Linked DNA regions of Homo sapiens. The protein of the gene in region 1 purifies or fractionates together with the protein of each later gene. This does not show direct contact. Each region holds a gene or a part of one and is shown on either strand. Other genes may lie near its edges.

The links. Proteins that work in one complex are often made in the same cells at the same time.
Region 2: the proteins of IGSF1 (region 1) and KCNC1 fractionate together in Homo sapiens (co-fractionation; one large-scale study listed by BioGRID). This does not show direct contact.

What each region holds. Positions count from the first base shown.
Region 1 is NC_000023.11:131,286,507-131,290,641, forward strand, and holds the start of IGSF1 (immunoglobulin superfamily member 1 isoform 1 precursor), read right to left. Parts: upstream 2,801-4,135; 5' UTR 2,708-2,800; intron 2,556-2,707; exon of another isoform or gene 2,516-2,555; intron 236-2,515; 5' UTR 169-235; coding exon 99-168; intron 1-98. UniProt on the Homo sapiens protein: Seems to be a coreceptor in inhibin signaling, but seems not to be a high-affinity inhibin receptor. Antagonizes activin A signaling in the presence or absence of inhibin B.
Region 2 is NC_000011.10:17,765,781-17,769,280, reverse strand, and holds part of KCNC1 (voltage-gated potassium channel KCNC1), read right to left. Parts: intron 1-3,500.

The DNA of each region.
Region 1 (4,135 bases):
CCATCCTGTGCTCAAACCTCAATACTTTCCTCTCCCACCCCTAATGAGTGGGTACCTATGACAGGGTCACTTGCCCCTCACCCCTTCCTTGTACTCACGAATGCAAAAGAGCAAAACAGTGAATGTCTTCAGCATGGTGGCCCCCTCCCCTGGTCTGTCCAGGGTCATGGGGCCTCTGGTGCTGGCTGTGTGCTCTGAGTCTTGAAGAATTTTTCTCCTCAGCAGGTGGTGGGATCTAAAAGCAGAATTGTTTTTACTCAGAGGACTTGTCCTGCTCCTTAAAGTTTAGTTTAGATGGCTAAATTGCACTTGACAACCCTACATTGTACTTCCTCACAGGCATGCAGGGTATTACAAGGTCACCTGCTGCTTCCTCTCCTTGCTCCTTTCCCTCACTTCCCTATCCTGCTCAAGGTCTTTGTTGGTATCAAAGATGTCAGATTTGTTGAAATATGGATTTGTCTCTGGGATCTCAGAAGCCCAGAATAGCCTGCAGAAGCTCCACAGGATGGGGGAGATGGGAGGTGCAGAGTCACCTTTTCAGATATGCATATATATATATATACGTATGTTTATATACGTATATATATGTGTATATACATGTATATATATGTGTGTATATATACGTATATATGTGTGTATATATATACGTATATATGTGTGTGTGTGTGTATATATATATATAGAGAGAGAGAGAGAGTCCTCCAACAACTTAAGAGAGGGGGCATTACTACCATCCCCATTTTACTGATGAACAAACTGAGGCTTAGAGAGGTTATATAATTTGCCCAAAGTCAAAAGATATTAAATATTAGAGCCCAAATTAGAATCCATGTTTAACTCCAAGGCCTATGGATCTAAAACAATGATTTAAACTCCCAGAGGTACCCTTCACTCCCTCTTCACCCTCCCTTACCCCTCTCACTTGATCCCTTGGATATCCTTCCCTTCCATAGAATGCTTTAGATCCAATATTACTCTCATTCTTGTCTCCTACCCCTAAAAGCTCAATACCCCAGTGTCAAGCATGTGTTAGAAAATCAAGCTGCTTGAGTTAATTTACATAAGGTCTAAATGATTCTTTCGTTGCCCTTAACTTCTAAACAGTTTTGTTGATTGCCTCTAAGGGAAATGGAATTGTTTGAATCTCAGGAAATACGGCAAAGATATTTGAGTTCAGGGAGGCTTTCCATTCTCCCTGACCAAAGTCATTATTTACCATAGGCCTTGCATATACACAAGGTAGACTCTTGAGCTTTCATGCCTCTCTCCACCTCCCCCCACAGTAACCTTTCACCAAGGGAAGGTATGTCCCAGCCACGCAAACTCAAGCTAATTCTCTTCCACCAACTTTCTACTGGGAGTCTGAAGTCCTGGCTGACTCCAGCTGTTATTAAATCTTAGCTCAGAAGAGTGGGGAAGAGGCAGCTCCCAGAATAGAGAAAGGAACTGATTTTGCTTTTCCAGACTGACCTTGGACCTCAGCCTCAAACTTGCCCCAGTGCTAACACTGGGTAGGATGGAGGAGCAGGAAGAGGAGGATATTTCGTGTTCAAAATATCTGGACTGTAGGGAACAAGTGGACAGTGAGAAATCCAAGGAAGCATAGGTCCATTGTACATTTTTCACTTTGTATCAAAGGATTTTCAGATTACCCACTCTGAATTTTCCTTATCTGTAAAGTGGAGGAGTAATATCGACCTAACATTATTGTTGTGTTGGGTTAGAGATAATACATGTACAGTGCCAGGCACATAGTGAACATTACATTTTAAAAAGATGCTTATTTTTTCTTCTTTTCAAAGGGGGCATCCAACTGGTGTAGGGCCCTAAAGATGCCCTTTCCATCTCAGTTCCTACAGTCCCTTGCTCCCACTCCTCTCAGGGCCAGGCCAAAGCTTGGATGCTACCCTGTTGCTTTGTTACCCTGGGGCTTTGGGCCAGGAGTTTTTGGGGGAAGCCAGGTTCCACTGCCAAGGGAGAGGTTCAACCTGGGATTACACCCAGGAAATGCCATCTGAGGTTTCAGCCTTGCCACTTGGACCCCTAAACCAGGATCTTTGCCTACTGGGGGATTGAGGGGAGTCAGGGAAGCTGGGCTTTTTGGCATGGCTGACCCCTCCTCAATCACTAAGGAAATTGTACCATTTATATTCAGCCCAGATGATGAATCTTATACCGGGGGAACATGAGAACAGCCCCAAGCCTTGGGTTAGTTGGCCACGCCCATTTTGGCCTTTCACCCCACCCCCACCCCCAACTTTGGCTGCCTAGCCGTTTTACCCTTCCCTCCTACTCCACCCCAAGCACTTTCCCCACCCTTAGGCAGCGCCGCAGTGCTTTTGAGGGTGACATATCTGAAATGTCTAATGGCTCGCCCCCTGCATAGCTTTGAGGGCTCCAGGAATCAAAGGGGTTGGGCTCGGCGGGGTGCCGGGTACATGCTCAGCTGAGGGTTTGGAGGGAAGACTGAGAAGGAAAAGGGGAGATATCTACAGTGCCCAGAGATTCTCACCGAGGCAGGTCTGGGATCCGGGAAGGAAAGGAGAAAGGCAGGAATGAAGCGGGTGGGGGGACAGACTGGGGAGCAGTTTGATTTACGGCAATTAATTACAGCAAGGAGACTCTTTCGGGGTTTTGTTTAGGATCCGGTGGCCAGTATTTAATATTCAGCCACTGAACTATGCGCTCATTTGTAGGTACTTACGGTAGTTGAAGGCCCGCTCCGATGTTGGAGATTCTCCAGTGAGCTCCTCCAGATGCAGCAAACTGCCCGGCATGAGAAGAGCTGTCTAAGGACAGCCTCTTCGGCTCTGAGCCCCGCCTTCCTCTCTCCCCCGCCCGCCTGCCGGCCCGCCCCAACCTCCTCCCCTCCCTGCGCCGGGCTCGGGGAGCCCACCTACACCAACTCTGCCTGGCACCTGCAGTCCTCTGACGACGGGGATTTCTACGCCCCTCCCAGCTCCCCGCCTCTCTCCGGACTCCCTGCAGAGGTTGCTGGAGCCAAATTCAGGCCCCTGCCCCCTCGCCTGTCTCTCAGAGTTTCACTGGGTCACTGTATTGTGGGGGGGAGAAGGCCAGCTCTCAAGAAGATTTGTAGATCCTTCTCTCCAGCTCCCCAATACCTTTATCGGGATCTCAGATCTTCCCCTGCCCATTTTAACGCCCCATTTATGCATAAACATCACCACAGTTTAAGTGCCTACTGTGTGCCCCTGGGCCCTGGGATCCATTATTTCTCATCTTCAGAGCAACTCTGCAAAATAAGTGTTACTCCCCTCAGTTTTACAGATGAGGAAACGGAAACTCAGAGAGGGTTAAGTAACTTGGACAGCCTTCAAAGTCCATCTTGGGGTAAAAGCCCAGGCTTTAGAGACATACAAATGTATATTTTAGTCCACATTTTACATTCAATAGTTGTGTGACCTCAAGCAAGTGAGTAAACTCTCTGAGTCCCAGGTTCCCCAACAGTAAAGTAAAAAACAAACAAACAAACAAAAAACAGCAGAACCTATTTCACAAGGCCTCAATGGGATGATGTAAGTAAAACTAACAGCACAATAGGCCTAGCATGTAGTAGGTGCTCAATAAATGGTAGTGGTTGCTGCTGCTACCACTACTACTACTACTATTAATCTGTAAGCCCTTCCCCAAATGTCTTAGAGTAACATGATTTTAATAATATAGAGCAACCTTTCACAAATGTTGATTATGAAAGACTTTTTATAATGATAATGTATGAATAAGACACTAATCAAAGCTCCTGATATATAACATATGATGAGATTAAAGTATAGCATCCAATGGGCTCACAGACTAATTGATAAGAAATATCAACATGATAGACTAATTGGCTAAAAAATAGACAAATTTTTCTTTATGTACATTTCCTTTTTTTTAAGACAGTCTCACTCTGTCGCCCAGGCTGGCGTGCAGTGGTGCGATCTTGGCTCACTGCAACCTCCACCTCCCAGGTTCAAGCAATTCTCCTGCTTCAGCCTCCCGAGTAGCTAGGATTATAGGCGCGCACCACCACACCCAGCTAGTTTTTGTATTTTTTAGTAGAGACGGGGTCCCACCATGTTGGCCAAGCTGGTCTGGAGGCTCAGCCTCCTAAACTGCTGGGATTACAGGC
Region 2 (3,500 bases), on another chromosome or scaffold:
CACCAAGTTCTGCCTGGCACAGAGTTGAATAAGGCCTCATTCCAGCCTCAGGGAGCTCCCTGCCTAGCTCAGGTGAAGGATACATTCAGAGACAAGTACAATGCAGTGGACTGAAAAGCTGAACCCTCAGCCCTATGAACTAGAAGAGGCTGGAAAAAGGTCAGAGTAATGTGGGCGCACTTGAGAGAGGCAGGGTAGAGGCTCAAAGCCATGGCTCCCAGATCCAGAAAGACCAGACCTGGAGCACAACAGAGGTAGACCAGGAAAACAATGTAGAAGCAACGGGAAGAGGCTGCCATGCTGGCTGCAAGTTTAATGAGCTCCAGAGCTCTCTCCATCACCAGAGTTGCCAAGGCTCTTGGAGCTAAAACACACATCCTGGTCTGCTGGGTATCTGGCTTCAGATCCCCCCTAGAAGGCCGCATTCTGGAGCTTGGCGTTCACAGCCCAGAGACTCCCTAAGGGCAGGGCAGGCCCCCCAGCTGCACCCCCTGCCCTGGCCTTTGTATGGGACGAGAGGAACAAGCACACTGTGGATGACCGAACGGTGCCAAGAGGCAGGGCCCACTGCACACTTGGCTCTCAATCCTGGCTGAAGGCTGGAGGCACCTCCCCTCCTCACTGCCCCATCAGCCAGGACATCCCATTCCCAAACCGCCCCCCCCCCCACCAACATCCATTCTCCACTGTACTCCCTGTTCATATGGGACTCTCTCCGGGCAGGGTCACTGCCATCAAAGCAGGTTTAGACTTCAGTCTTGGCTACCAGAGGGTGCTTTCAACTGGAATCCCAGCTCTGCCCATGCAGCCCACAGAGAAAGTCCAAATTCCCCAGCCTGGCACACGAGGCTCTCCACGTCCTGGCCTCATTTGATTTCCCAGGGTCCTCTCCCTGCATGCACCCAACATTCTTGCCATGTGCAGCTCTCTGCCATTTCTGACCACAGAGTGTCTCCCCACCTCCGTGGTTTTGTACCTGCTATTCCTTCTGCTGGAGAGTGCTCCTGCCAGTCTCTGTCTGGAAAAATCCCATTCATCCTTCAGGGCCCTACTAAGTGACCCGTCCCCTGAGGTGAGGTTCCCCTTCACAGCCCTGGCCCACAGGAGACAGCAACTGAAGGGAGTTCCCCAGGAGTCTCTAAATGCACCCCAGGGAGGCAGCAAGCCCATCTCCGACTCCAGCTCTTTAGTGCATGGGGAGGCTCACAGGAACAGCCCAGACAGGGCACTGATGTCCCAGGAGCCTGGTAACTCCCAGGCAACCCCACAGCCCTCAGAGCTCTCATCTCAAGTGCTCCTCTCAGTTCAGATCCTGATTGGAAAACTCAGGCCTTATAAGATTATGGTAAAAAGTCTTTGTTTCTCAGGGACCAATGGACTGCCTGTCTAGATTCTTTCCTCTCTGGGCCCCAGTGCCCAAGGAGTGGAGGATGGGGAGCAGGCAGCAGAAGCCAGGTCCAGGTGCAAAGACACCTTCCCCAGGGAGAGTCAGGAGAGGTGGAGGCCAGGCCTCTCACACTGCTCAGGCTCCCTGGGCGCCTGCCTTCCTGTCCTCTGCTACTGTGAGGCCTGATCTTCCTCTGTTACAGGCAGAGCCCCAGCAACATCAAATCCCAAGGGACGCTTAGAGTGCTGTGGAGGAAGATGCCTCAGCCTGCTCAGATCCCAGTGTCCTCCTAAGTCTAGACCAGTGGGAGGTCAGCCACAGGCACAGCCGGAGCAAGAGCAACGAAGCCCCAGGTCCCTTGTGTCCATTCTCCAGGGCTGGCTGGAGAAAGGAAAGAGCTCCCAAAACTTGAGGACCTACTATGTGCCTTCAGTCCTCACACCAGCTTGGTGAGACGGGGCCATATCCCCATTGCTTCAAGGAGGAAATGCAGGTACAGAAAGGTTCGGGGACTAAGCCAAGGTTTTAAAGCTCGTGATGAGGCTGAGACTTGGATCCAAGTGTTTTTCTTTCTTTTCTTTTCTTTTCTTTTCTTTTTTTTTTTTTTTTGAGACGGAGTCTTGCTCTGTCACACAGGCTGCAGTGCAGTGGCGTGATCTTGGCTCACTGCAACCTCCGCCTCCCGGGTTCCCACCTCAGCCTCCCAAGTAGCTGGGATTATAAGTGTGCACCACCACAGCCGGCTAATTTTTTTTTTTTTTTAAGACAGAGTCTCGTTCTGTTGCTCAGGCTGGAGTGCAATGGCGCAATCTCAGCTCACTGCAACCTCCGCCTCCTGGGTTCAAGCGATTCTCTGCCTCAGCCTCCTGAGTAGCTGGGACTACAGGTGCCACCACCACGCCCGGCTAATTTTTTTTTTTTTTTTTGGTATTTTTTAGTAGAGATGGGGTTTCGCCATGTTGGTCAGGCTGGTCTTGAACTCCTGACCTCAGGTGATCTGCCAGACTCGGCCTCCCAAGTGTATTGAGCTCTAGAACCTAAGCTCTTGCCTCCAGAGTCGCCAAAGCTCCTGGAGTTAAAAACCCAGCCCCACCCACTGCAGAGCGCCCCCTGATTGTGTCTAAATGGCTCTGTCTAGGAGCCTAACAGGCACAGCTCAGAATCCGTAAGAGCAGGTTGTGCCTATCCCCAGTGATAGAGCAAGGCTACCTGGATCCAAATGCTGGAGCCAGCCACATCTGAATGCTTCTTAGGCCTCATTGCCCAGAATCTGCTAGCAACTGGAATAAGAGCAGCCCCATGGGTGGGGACACTGCCCCTGTCTAGCAAGGTATAATGTCAACAGCAGAGGGACCCTCTGCCTGGTAAGCCTCAGAAAAGCCTATGTGACAACCCTGGGCTGTCATCCCCGGGGCTGTAGGGTCACAGGCAAGATTAGGGGACTGCTTCCCACATGAGTGATCTGCTTCCCAATCCAAGCCACCTAGAGACATGGAAGAGTCACCCACAGACCACAAACACACACAGTGACGCAGAGCACATGTCTCATCCATTACCTAAGCACAGACACTGTGCACATGGCACACAAACTACAACAGTGTCCCCACCACACAGTAAACACAGGAGCCCATGGAGCACATGCGGAGACACATCGCCACACACCACCAGAAACACTTGGGTGCTGCACTGCAAGGCGCACACACGCACCACTCGTGCATACACACTCGGCACACACAGATAATGCAGCAGAGGTAACAGCACAGCATACGCACTGTGAGCACATGGAGGCCCTGGCTGTGCCCCGGCAGCTCCCTGCAGACTTCTCTCTCCCGACCCCAGGTGTAACTGACTCAGTGTCTGTCCCCCTCCTGCAGGACAGGCAGCTCCAGCCCACCTTGCCTCTGCCTCCTCCGCCCTCTCTGCTCAGGCTGCCATCTCCCGGATTACCCGACCCTAGGCTGTGCCCATCACCCATGGGCTTCCTGATTTTGTGTGACCTGTCAGACTTTATCTCCCTTCTACACGCCATGCCTGCAGCAGCTGAGTCCCACCACACCCAGGATCCAGGCCTGCTGGGAGGCCAGTCCCTCCTGGGCTGCCGGCCTGACAGGGG